Regions from separate parts of the Homo sapiens genome. Here all the other regions are reported to be linked to region 4. The links are microRNA targets in miRTarBase. Many come from high-throughput screens and were not tested one by one. Region 4 holds a microRNA gene; each other region holds the end of a gene's coding sequence. Distances are from middle to middle.
Evidence for each region. The annotated mature microRNA hsa-miR-6829-3p reads UGCCUCCUCCGUGGCCUCAG and lies in region 4 at 1,465-1,484, shown strand. An mRNA with a match to its seed (bases 2 to 7 or 8) in the 3' UTR can be bound and repressed. Matches are read on the target gene's strand: a 7mer-m8 pairs with bases 2 to 8, a 7mer-A1 pairs with bases 2 to 7 and ends in A, and an 8mer does both.

Region 1 (3,000 bases), not on the chromosome of region 4:
GTGTGACAAAGACCCCATAGGAAGTGTCACACAGGTGCGAGGCTTCACACAGTGCCGCTCATTTCCTTCCAGAAATACCTCCATACTCTTTTACTATCCTGAGGGTGGGGCACCCCACATTTCTCTGGCATTTGATCTCCCTTCCCCCACAGCAGCTCTTCTCACCAAGATGCCTTTCCTTGGCACGGCGCTTGCAGCCCAAGCAGGGCTGAAGGAGAGGGGCCTGAGTCTCAGGGGTGTTCCTCCCCTTGGAGAGCTCTGGGCTGGCAGCATCTTGCTAAGGGGTTGTCAGCCTCCCAACCTGGGACAAGGACAGCTCCTCCTCCTCTGTGTATGGTAACTACAGGGGTGGAAGGCAAGGCAGAGAAGTTGACGGGAGGTAGCAAGAGTGGGAGCCGGTGGCATAATTTAGATCTGAGGCCTTTAAGAAAAATGCTCAGAAACAATCATCCTACCCAGTGCTAAATATCAGATGAGTCAGCCTCTGGGCAGCTGTCACCTTCCTCCCCCAAATTCCCTGGCAAAGCAGGGAGGCTGGCTTGGGGCTGCCTCTCTGACTCTGACAGCAGTTGGAACCCACAGCTACCCTGCGGTCCCCCTCTTGCCCCCAATCCCAGGATGCTCGCTTCCATTTTACTCTACTTTTAGGGAAGGAGCCAGGGATGGGCCTCAGTGTTCCCTCCCTACTCCCGAAGGGACAGTATTTGTCCCCAGTCCTTTCTCCTGCCGATGCTTTTGGATTTAGGAAGTGATGCCTTGAGGACATGGGCATCTCCCACCCTTCGTGCTCACCCTCGCAATAGTGGATGTGCCTGGAGGGTACATTTCTGAAGAACTACCAGAGCTGAGAAGAAAAAGCAGACTGCATAGCTTAGCGCAGATTCACGCAAAGCCACTTGTGCATTCCAGAGCCAGGGCCATGTGGTTCGGCCCACATGTTGGCAGTAAGCATGTTGTTCCAGCCAGGTGAGTCAGCAGACATGGGATGTTCGTTTATTTGGGCAAATGTGTCTCGTTAGGGTCATTCTGAAAAGAAGCCCAGTGTGCAGTCATTAGCCCCTGGGGTAGCGTTGCTACTAAGTGGTTGGGGAGAAGTCAGGGAAGAGGAAGAGGTGGCGTTCCCCAGCCTCACCCGTGGAGACCCCAGCGAAGCGGGGGCAGGCAGGCACTGCTGGAGGAGCGAAGGCCAGGTGGACACGAGGACAGATTCCAGAGGCTTGGTTTTATTGTGCAGTTTTCTTTGTCCTCAATGAGATGCCATAAGCTGTGGTGGCACTATACACAGTCACAGAACAGGAAGAACCACCGGGTGGGGGCTGGGGGTTGGGAAAAGCCATTTCCTGAGAAGTGTCCGGCTCCTGGGTCTCACTCCATGGCTTGCCTCAGGCCCCGCAGAAGTCCCTGAGAAGGCAGGCCTGCGGGGCAGGGGGCTGTCTGAGGGGCTCAGGCACCAGCCAGCAGGGGCTGGCACTGATGGGCGAGGGGAGGAAGTGCCTCCCTTAGAAACTTGGGCCAAACCCTGTGCAGCTCTGGGACTCCACCCCACCTGACTTGGAGGCTGTGGGTCAGAGCTCTGGAAGCTCTTGGGAGCTTGGGACAGCCTGAGAGGGTCTTGTCCTCCTTTGTAGCCCTCTCCACTGTGGGTGGAGGCAGGGAGGGGCAGCAGGGCCATGCTTTTAGCTTCCTTAGGCAGGGAGGGATGATGAACCCTCATCCTTTACCTCCTTCTCCAACCCTCCACTAGCGCTGCTTTCCTGGTCAAACCTGCATCTTCACTGGGTCATGCCCCAAGGCCTCTGAGGGACTTCCACAGTGGTAAGGAGGGCTGCCCTTTTTATTTTTTTTTGGTTGTGGCTGAGAATGCTGGAGATGCTCAGTTCTCTCCCTCACAAGGTAGGCCACAAATTCTTGGTGGTGCCCTCACATCTGGGGTCTTCAGGCACCAGCCATGCCTGCCGAGGAGTGCTGTCAGGACAGACCATGTCCGTGCTAGGCCCAGGCACAGCCCAACCACTCCTCATCCAAGTCTCTCCCAGGTTTCTGGTCCCGATGGGCAAGGATGACCCCTCCAGTGGCTGGTACCCCACCATCCCACTACCCCTCACATGCTCTCACTCTCCATCAGGTCCCCAATCCTGGCTTCCCTCTTCACGAACTCTCAAAGAAAAGGAAGGATAAAACCTAAATAAACCAGACAGAAGCAGCTCTGGAACAAAAAGTACAAAAAGACAGCCAGAGGTGTGCGGAGAGGGTGAGGTGGCCGCGTGGACGTGGGTAGATAATCGCATGCAGCACTGGAACTCCTGATGAGGGGTGGGGTCCCCACTTCTCCTCAAGGTTTGAGGGATTGGGGGGAGGGGGTCAGCTGACTCAGAGAAGTAGGATCTCTGCACTGGAACTTGAGGCTTCCTGTCTCCTCCATGGGCCCCACCAGTCACAGGGACATGAAATCCGTGGCCTGGAGGAGGGAGAGGGAGAGCAGGAGCAGCAGCAGCCACGAGGTGTTCTGAGCCAGCAGGCTGATGCCCTCACACTTGACCAGTTTGTCTGCAGAAAGAGAAGGGGGCCGGGGGCAGGGTAGGAAGGAAGACGGATCAGGACTCAGGCAGGCACAGGCCCAAAGCAAGGGTGTACTCCCTTTGGGAGGTGGGTACTGCAATGTCTTAGCTGGGACCAGGAACAGCCCGGTCTCACAGAACCAGCCATCTTTCCCATTTGCAGATTACTGATCTCTTGCACACATATCATCTTATGAAAACCTTACTAAACATCATGACAAGAAAACTGGCTGAGGGAGGTGGTGTCATCCCTGTTTTCCCGCTGGGAGAAGGAAGATTAGGGAGGCCAAAGGCCTTGCCCACAGTTCTGGTGGAACCACACTGCTCTGCCTGTCTGGCCCTGAGCTCTTCACCCCATTCACACCGAAGGCAATGGTTCCCCAGTTGACCAGGCAGCAGTTGGGAGAGGGTGAGAGCGTTATGGGGCTATTCTCCTCTCTAG
Region 2 (3,000 bases), not on the chromosome of region 4:
AGCCCCTGCAGCTGCTCTGGGTAAGGGAGCAGGGCCAGCATTCTATCTCACTGCTGTTCTCTGCTCTCCCCGCAGGTGGAAGGCTTTAGGGCCACCATGGCGCAGCGCCTGGTGCGCGTGCTGCAGATCTGTGCTGGCCACGTGCCCGGTGTCTCAGCTCTGAACCTGCTGTCCCTGCTGAGAAGCTCTGAGGGCCCCTCCCTGGAGGACCTGTGAGGGTGGCTGGCCCCTGGGCTGCCCCTTCTCATGGCTTCGTGCTGACTCCATAAACATTCTCTGTTGAGGATGTCCAGTCAGGGCTTGACAGGCCCAGGCTCAGCCCGCCGTGGCTGGGAAGGTTCCCTGCAGTGCCAGTGCTGCAGCAGGGAGAGCTGGGCAGAAGCAGCGAGGGGGCCCAGCTGGCGAGACTGTAGCCCCCTCCCACTCCCACACTCACTCTTGCAGAGCCTGTGTCTTTAAGCAGCTGGCGTGTTACATCTCCATTTAAGGTTTCCTTTGAACAAAAGGTCTGTGGCTAAAAAAAGTTTAAAAATCACTGGTCTCATTCACCACTTTGACTTTGTAGATGAGGAAACTGACTCAGAACAATTAAGAGTAGGGCAGGGTGGGCCAGGTGCAGAGGCTCACGCCTGTAATCCCAGCACTTTGGGAGGCCGAGGTGGGTGGATCACTTGAAGTCAGGAATTCGAGACCATCCTGGCCAACATGGTGTATCCCTGTCTCTACAAAAATACAAAAATTAGCCAGATGTGGTGGTGGGCGCCTGTAGTCCCAGCTACTCAGGAGGCTGAGGCAGGAGAATCACTTGAACCCGGGAGGCGGAGGTTGCAGTGAGCTGAGACTGTGCCACTGCACTCCAGCCTGGGCAACACAGTGAGACTCCACCTCAAAAAAAAAAAAAAAAAAAAGCGAGACCAGCCTGGCCAACATAGTGAAACCCTGTCTCTACTAAAAATACAAAAATTAGCCAGGCATGGTGATGCAGGCCTGTAGTCTCAACTACTCGGGAGGCTGAAGCAGGAGAATCACTTGAACCTGGGAGGCGGAGGTGGTGTTGAACCGAGATTACACCACTGCACTCCAGCCTGGGCAACAGAGCGAGACTCCGTCTCAAAAAAAAAAAAAAAAAATGCTGGGCGCGGTGGTTCCCACCTATAATTCCAGCACTTTGGGAGGCCGAGGCGGGCAGATCACAAGGTCAGGAGATCGAGACCATCCTGGCTAACAGTGAAACTCTGCCTCTACTAAAAATACAAACAAATTAGCCAGGCATGGTGGCGGGCATCTGTAGTCCTAGCTACTTGGGAGGCTGAGGCAGAAGACCGGCATGAACCTGGGAGGCGGAGCTTGCAGTAAGCTGAGATCGCGCCACTGCACTCCAGCCTGGGCGACAGAGCGAGACTCTGTCTCAAAGAAAAAAAAAGGAGTGGGGCGGGGTAAGGGGAGCTTGGACTCGTTATGCCAGTCAGACTCCACATCCTGGCCCTGCTATTATAGAACCTGGTTGTTGCCTCTTGGAGCTTGTTTTCTCAGATGTGAATGGAGATGAGGTTCTGCTCACCTTGTCACGTTGGGAGGATTGAATGAGACGATGGACATGCCTGGGACTGTGTGACCCCCCATGCCTGCGAGTAGGTTGCTGTGTTCATAACATGTGTTAATGCCTTGCACCTTGCTAGGTAGGCACTCAGTGAACAGTAACTATTTGAAATCACATGGAAAGCCGAGGCGGGCGGATTGCCTGAGCTCAGGAGTTTGTGGCTGGCCTGGCAACACGGTGAAACCCCGTCTCCACTAAAATACAGAAAATTAGCCGGGCATGGCAGTCTGTGCCTATAGTCCCAGCTACTTGGGAGGCTGAGGCAGGAAAATTGCTTGAACCCAGGAGGCGGAGGTTGCAGTGAGCTGAGATCGTACCACTGCACTTCAGCCCAGGCAGCGGAGCGAGACTCTATCTCCAAAAAAGAAATCACACAGCGGAGTTCAAAAACTGGTGCAAATTAGGAATTACACCACTGTCAGAAGTTTGCAAGAAGTGAGAAAAGCTGGCTGGAGGTCTCATTTTGGGGTTGATGGCGAGAGATTGTACAGTGCCAGTTGCTTTCCTTCTCCCTTGGGTCTAATTGGAGATTGTAGAGGCATCAGAAGTGGACTCTAGAAATCCCATAGAGAGCCAGGTCCTGACTCCCTTGGAACATGACAGTGCCCTCCCCACATTCACCCTGCATGTGCCAGGGCATGCCCACCAGCCTCAGGCCTCAGGATGGACCCCAGTTGAAGCCCTGGGCAGCACTGCACCAGCACCTCGGGGCCTGTCTGCTTTTTTCTTTTTTTTTGGTTGGTGGGGTGTGGAGTCTTGCTCTGTCGCCCAGGCTGGAGTGCAGTGGCGTGATCTCAACTCACTGCAGCCTCTGCTCCCTGGTTCAAGTGATTCTCCTGCCTCAGCCTCCCGAGCAGCTGAGATTACAGGTGCACGCCACCATGCCCAGCTAATTTTTGTATTTTTAGTAGACACAGGTTTCGCCATGTTGGCCAGGCTGGTCTCAAACTCCTGACCTCACGTGATCTGCCACCCTTGGCCTCCCAAAGTGCTGGGATTACAGGTGTGAGAGTCACCGCGGCCGGCCTAAGGCCTCTCTGCTTTGATGTCACCATCGCAGCTGGGCCCATGCCCTTCACTGAGGGGTGGGCCGCCTTCTAACTCCTTGTAGGTGTCGGGGATGCGGCCCTATCTGCCCCTTTCTGTAGGTTCCTTCTGGAACTTAGCTCAGGCCCCACCCCTAGTGCTCAGTAAGGGTTTGTAGACACCTGGCTGACTTCCTGGCAGTCCCTTGGGCTCCGCTGAGGACTTCAGCCACGTAGATTCCGGTCGAGGCCCCACATGTCACCCGACATTTGCAGGCACGTCATGCTTCACAGAGCTCTTCTCACACAGCAGACCTGTGAGGTAGATGATGTTTCCCCAATTCACAGTTCATGAAACAGACCGTTGTCATGGGA
Region 3 (3,000 bases), 470 kb from region 4:
AAGGCAATACTCCTTATGGATTCTTCCCATGTACAATCCGTAACTCTTCCCATGGGCCTTTATATCAACCCTAAGATAATTACACTCCTGCCTCAAAATAAAATAAAATAAAACCCACCACATCTTGTATTGTAGACATCCCAGCTGCATGTTAAGCTGAGTGAAAGTACCATGCTGTCTTTTAAATCACTTTATATCTACTTAATCATCCCACAGTAACCCGAGTTGAAGAAGTTACTTTGGTTTCTCATAAATGAATATGCACGTGCTGAACATATCGGAAAGAACCACACCCTCTCACTGATGAACACGTTGGCAGTTCTCCCAACTGTTTTATCAAGAGAAGCTAGAAGGTAAAGAAAAGGAAACAGAGCCCTATAGGAAAAATGATTGACTTCACACGTTTGAGCGATTTGGGCTTCAGCTATGACTTTGCTGGAGTACAGATGGGTGCCATCAGAGCACAAAGCTGAGCAAACCTCTCTTCTTACCCTGTGCCCTCCCTGAATTTTTGGATTTCTGAGCTTGTCTACTACCAACAAATGTTTTACCCTCCAGTGCACCTTTGACAGTATACAGCTCTATTTTTCAAACGGCAAGTATGTTATCCAAGTTCAGAGATGCAACTGAGGAATTAACATGAAAACCATCTTTCACTCAATAAATCAGAAGCTGCTAGTTAAGTAAGCCTCAAGAACCTAAGAAAAAACACCAAAGTGTAAGTATTACTCAGTCACCAATCTAAAGACAGAACTTTGACTCAAGGTAGAAATGAAACCGTAATTATATAAATATATTTATAAATATTTATACAATTATATACTTATACATAAGCACTTACACAGACTTAGAAAAAAATTTAAGAACATTAATTCAAAAGGACTCACTGAAGAATAAACAGATTTTTCCATGATTTCCTTGAGGAGATATAAAACTCATTCTTTAGGGAGAGTTCCTCAAAATTCAACCATTAGAAACCATATCCTATAACTGTGTACTAGCAACACATGGCATCTTTTTTTCTTCTTTTCCCAAATCCCCTAATTGCCAAGAGAGCAATCTTAAAGTAGATGAAAACCTAAAGGTCTCTACGCAACATCTGAGGAACATACGCTCCTCAGATAAAAGAATCAATCTAAATCCTCAACTGACAAAAAGGTCCATTTAATATTTTTCATTTTACAAGTTAAAAGTTCTAGTTTTGCCACCAGAATCACGACTACCCCCCCTTCAGAGGACTCCATTTAAGCTCAAAATACGAAATGAGCATAGGGTGAAGTTGATGTGTAAATGGTATTCTACAGATTCAAGATGGCCTCTTCTAAAAACACTGAAGAAAGCTTTCACCAACTCTAATTTGATTTTGGGTTTTGTTGGCAGAAAAAGCCCAAGACATCTGAAAATTACTAGTAACCTCCGCCATCCTCCTTACTAAATGTTGTCTTCTGAATGGAGTTGAAAGGTCTTCCCCTTAGAGAGGCTTTCCGTTTTGATACCTTTTGAAAGAAAACAGCATGCGGACTCATGTTCAATTCAGTCACCAGAGCCTTTTAGAGACTATTCCAACCAGGGGCAAAAAATGAACCATTATTTCTAACCAAAAGAACATGGTTAGCAACTCTCAGCTGAATGGTTTTCTTTTTCCCCAGGGACATACCTAAGTATGCCTGAAACAACACAGGACAATCAATAACCATAGTGGTTACAATTCCAAGCCATTGTACTACATGATTATTGACCAGCTGCCTTCCTACAGATCACTGCAGACTCAGACAATGGAGGGCTCCAAAGGAACTAATATGCTGTGCTGGCAAAAATAGCAAGCACCTTCCTATCCCAGTCACCACGATAGGTTCACTTCATGTCCATTCTTGGACTAGCAGGATCAATACAGAGTAATAAGGAAAACTGTCTCAGGTTAGGACAATGAAAGTCACCCCATGCTATATGCTCCATATTTAACACTCATTCTGCCAATAACACATGTCATGGAAATAGTCCTTATAGCTGGGAACATGAAAATCCTTTGAAAAAGGTTTTTAAGTATGATGAGCAATCATTACAAGGGATGCTTTTTCCACGTAAACAAAAGCCTGGATATTTTGTTAAGCGACATTTCCACATGAAGAACACAACAAAACCAAACCCATGTTAGAGAATTTCTTCTCCCTGCTAAACACGGGGACTTACAAAAAAGGGAGGGTTGTTCTTACTCTGAATCTAGCCATTCCTTTGCCCGAAGAGTCTGGGGAGTAACGTTAACATTTGATCCCAAAAAAGTGCCGTGCAAGAGACCACTTACTGGAACACACAATTCCTGCTGCTAGTACTAGGAGAGGTCTTATCCTTACACTTCAGTTTGGTCACCAGATTAGGTAAGAAAGAAAAGTGTGGGGGGAGGGGGAGGCAGAAGGGTACGGAGTGGGGAGCGAGAAAACAGAAGAGGAGAAAGAAACAAAGGGGGAGAAAGAGACTGATTATAGGAGAGATCAAGAAATAAGAGAAGGAAGGTGACTTGCTTGCCCAACTTTGGCTCTGTGGTCCTATGAGCCAAAATGCATACTTAGTGACATGTATCTCACAGGAAAAGGGAAAAAAGGGGTAAGCTGAGAGAGGTCAAGCCATGGTGTTAATTTCTTTCCTGTACAAAGACAGTCTCTTGAGGACAAAGGCCTGCCTCTTGCAATGTAATATCATAGTCCAGATGAGATAATTTCCTTCGAGGAAAGTTGGTGAGAAGTTCAAAACGTTCATTTGGGTATCCTTTAGACTGCACGTGCTTCACCAAAGCCTATAAAAACAAGAGAAAGACAAAGCCATTAGACGGAAAAAGAGGAAAGAGCATATTAGTGAATTAAATAGAAAACATTCTCTTTTTAATCATATTAGATCAGCTATTAAATGTAAGTTCTTCTTTCATATAACCAAAGCTTGCCCTTGGGGAAGGGCCAATATAAACCTTTGGACGGGGAGATAAATCTGACCCCAATTACTTACAGC
Region 4 (3,000 bases):
GAGAAACCCCATCTCTACTAAAAATACAAAATTAGCCAGGCGTGGTGGCACCTGCCTGTAATCCCAGCTACTCAGGAGGCTGAGGCAGGAGAATCACTTGAACCCGGGAGGCAGAGGTTGCAGTGAGCTGAGATCACGTCACTGCATTCCAGCCTGGGCGACAAGAGCGAGACTGTCTCAAAAAAAAAAATTCCATTTTATAACATTTGAATATTCTCTCATCATACTGGTTATCTCTTACTTTTTGGTTGGTATTTAAGCCCGGCATTCCCCCAGGAAGGGGAGGTGTGGCCGACGATGGCTCCTGAGGGCCAGCCGTCTGCCCTTCTCCAGCCAGGCCTCACGCAGAGCACGTAAGCCCAGGCACTGGTGACATGCTTACCCACCCAGATGAGGAGCTCACAGGCAGGGATCGTTGAGCCGAGTTGGAGGGTGGAGCAGGTTGGCTCCGCGTGTCTGGGACCTGGCAAGTCCTGAGTCCTTGCAAATCCCGCTCTGGGCAGGTGAGTGTGGCTGTGAAGTGCCTGAAGCCCGATGTCCTGAGCCAGCCAGAAGCCATGGACGACTTCATCCGGGAGGTCAATGCCATGCACTCGCTCGACCACCGAAACCTCATCCGCCTCTACGGGGTGGTGCTCACGCCGCCCATGAAGATGGTGAGTACTGCGGGCGGGAGGGGGCGGGCAGGGAGAGGGCTCCGGTCCCATATGTGTGGTTCGGTTCCTCTCTCCATCCTAAGGTCAGAGGCGCCCTAGATCCTACTTTGGTCCCCCAACCTGATGGAGTAAAGGGGTCCACAGGGGCCCAGCCTGGTACGGGCTGTGTCTGCTGCGGTCCAGTCCGGGTCTGTCTCTGGATTTTGCTGGTGCTCAGTGTCAAGAGAGTTACTCCCATGGGAGGGGCTGGCCACTGAGTTTAATTTGGGGAATTTATGTTTTATTTATCTATTTATTTTGAGATGGAGTCTCACTTTGTCGCCCAGGCTGGAGTGCAATGGCATGATCTAGGCTCACTGCAACCTCGGCCTCCTGGGTTCACGCGATATTCCTGCCTCAGGCTTCCAAGTAGCTGGGATTACAGCCGTGCGCTACCATGCCTGGCTAATTTTTGTATTTTTAGTAGAGACGGGGTTTCACCATGTTGGCCAGGCTGGTCTCAAACTCCTGACCTCAAATGATCCACCCACCTCGGCCTCCCAAAGTGCTGGGATTACAGGCGTGAGCCACCACGTCCAGCTGAGTTTTGGAATTTCTAGCCACTGCCTCTTTGGGCTCCTTCTCTCTAGGCATCAGTTTCCCAAATTGCCTCGAGGGAGAGGCCTGAGAAACTGCAGGACTCCTAGAGGTCCCCAGACAGCAGGCCAGGAAGGTGCGTGCAGCCTGGCTCTGGAAAGCCTTCAGGAAGGGGACTGGGGGCCCAGCGTGGGCTGCTGAGAAGGGGCAGGGTCCTCCAGCTCATTCCTCCTGCCTCCTCCGTGGCCTCAGGTGACAGAGCTGGCACCTCTGGGATCGTTGTTGGACCGGCTACGTAAGCACCAGGGCCACTTCCTCCTGGGGACTCTGAGCCGCTACGCTGTGCAGGTGGCTGAGGGCATGGGCTACCTGGAGTCCAAGCGCTTTATTCACCGTGACCTGGCTGCCCGCAATCTGCTGTTGGCTACCCGCGACCTGGTCAAGATCGGGGACTTTGGGCTGATGCGAGCACTACCTCAGAATGACGACCATTACGTCATGCAGGAACATCGCAAGGTGCCCTTCGCCTGGTGAGGGGCAGGTGCTGCCAGCTCACAGAGTCCCTGCAGACCCAGGCCTCAAAGCTTCTGGGGCTTTCTGGACCCACCACAGCCCCTGGTTTTGCTTGGGCCTGCCCTTGTCTGTTCTAAGCCTGGGGTGCCCTCCTTTGCACCCATTCGCTCACCATCCATCTAGGAATTCTTGAGGGCCCACGTGCCAGGGTCTGGGTGCTGGAAATCACAGGGATACATGCTGTGGGACTCTCCAAGGGGCTTTGCTGGGTGGGGTGATACGGGGATAGATGCTGTGTCCTCTCCAAGGGGCATTGTTGGGGGTCGTGTTTCAGGGATAGATCCTGTGTCCTCTCCAAGGGGCATTGCTGGCGGGGGGGTGTTATAGGGATAAATGCTGTGTCCTCTCCAAAGGGCGTTGCTGGGGGGGGGGTGTTACAAGGATAGATGCTGTGTCCTCTTCAAGGGGCATCGCTGGGGGGGTGTTACAGGGATAGATGCTGTGTCCTCTTCAAGGGGCATTGCTGGGGGGGGTGTTACAGGGATAGATGCCGTGTCCTCTCCAAGGGGCGTTGCTGGGGGGGGTGTTAGAGGGACAGATCCTGTGTCCTCTCCAAGGGGCATCGCTGGGGGCGGGTGTTACAGGGATAGATGCTGTGTCCTCTCCAAGGGGCACTGCTGGGGGGGTGTTACAGGGATAGATGCTGTGTCCTCTCCAAGGGGCACTGCTGGGGGGGTGTTAGAGGGACAGATCCTGTGTCCTCTTCAAGGGGCATTGCTGGCGGGTGGTGTTAGAGGGATAGACACTGTGTCCTCTCCAAGGGGCATCGCTGGGGGCGGGTGTTACAGGGATAGACGCTGTGTCCTCTCCAAGGGGCATTGCTGGGGGGGTGTTACAGGGATAGATGCTGTGTCCTCTCCAAGGGGCACTGCTGGGGGGGTGTTACAGGGATAGATGCTGTGTCCTCTCCAAGGGGCACTGCTGGGGGGGTGTTAGAGGGACAGATCCTGTGTCCTCTTCAAGGGGCATTGCTGGCGGGTGGTGTTAGAGGGATAGACACTGTGTCCTCTCCAAGGGGCATCGCTGGGGGCGGGTGTTACAGGGATAGACGCTGTGTCCTCTCCAAGGGGCATTGCTGGGGGGGTGTTACAGGGATAGATGCTGTGTCCTCTCCAAGGGGCATTGCTGGGGGGCGGGTGTTACAGGGTTAGATGCTGTGTCCTCTCCAAGGGGCATTGCTGGGGGGGGTGTTACA

Region 1: the mRNA of THY1 is a reported target of hsa-miR-6829-3p. Seed matches in the 3' UTR shown: 7mer-A1 at 1,492-1,498.
Region 2: miRTarBase lists CENPM as a target of hsa-miR-6829-3p. The part of its 3' UTR that is shown has no 7-base or 8-base seed match.
Region 3: the mRNA of UBXN7 is a reported target of hsa-miR-6829-3p. The part of its 3' UTR that is shown has no 7-base or 8-base seed match.

What each region holds. Positions count from the first base shown.
Region 1 is chr11:119,416,974-119,419,973 of GRCh38, forward strand. It overlaps THY1 (Thy-1 cell surface antigen), which reads right to left. Exons shown (of 4, transcript NM_006288.5): 4 at 1-2,547. The coding sequence ends at 2,435. All of the region lies in intron 2 of USP2-AS1 (USP2 antisense RNA 1), which reads left to right. Among named protein-coding and RNA genes, the nearest start is that of THY1, 4.7 kb to the right of the region's middle. RefSeq lists an enhancer at 2,678-3,000.
Region 2 is chr22:41,936,272-41,939,271 of GRCh38, reverse strand. CENPM (centromere protein M) reads left to right here. Exons shown (of 6, transcript NM_024053.5): 6 at 76-535. The coding sequence ends at 216. Among named protein-coding and RNA genes, the nearest start is that of CENPM, 9.4 kb to the left of the region's middle. RefSeq lists enhancers at 2,481-2,540, 2,581-2,720, 2,761-3,000, 2,382-3,000.
Region 3 is chr3:196,354,056-196,357,055 of GRCh38, forward strand. UBXN7 (UBX domain protein 7) reads right to left here. Exons shown (of 11, transcript NM_015562.2): 11 at 1-2,791. The coding sequence ends at 2,630. Among named protein-coding and RNA genes, the nearest start is that of TM4SF19-DYNLT2B, 17 kb to the left of the region's middle.
Region 4 is chr3:195,880,813-195,883,812 of GRCh38, reverse strand. MIR6829 (microRNA 6829) reads left to right here and starts at 1,418; the gene lies at 1,418-1,484. It overlaps TNK2 (tyrosine kinase non receptor 2), which reads left to right. Exons shown (of 16, transcript NM_001382273.1): 5 at 504-656; 6 at 1,485-1,762. RefSeq lists an enhancer at 27-527.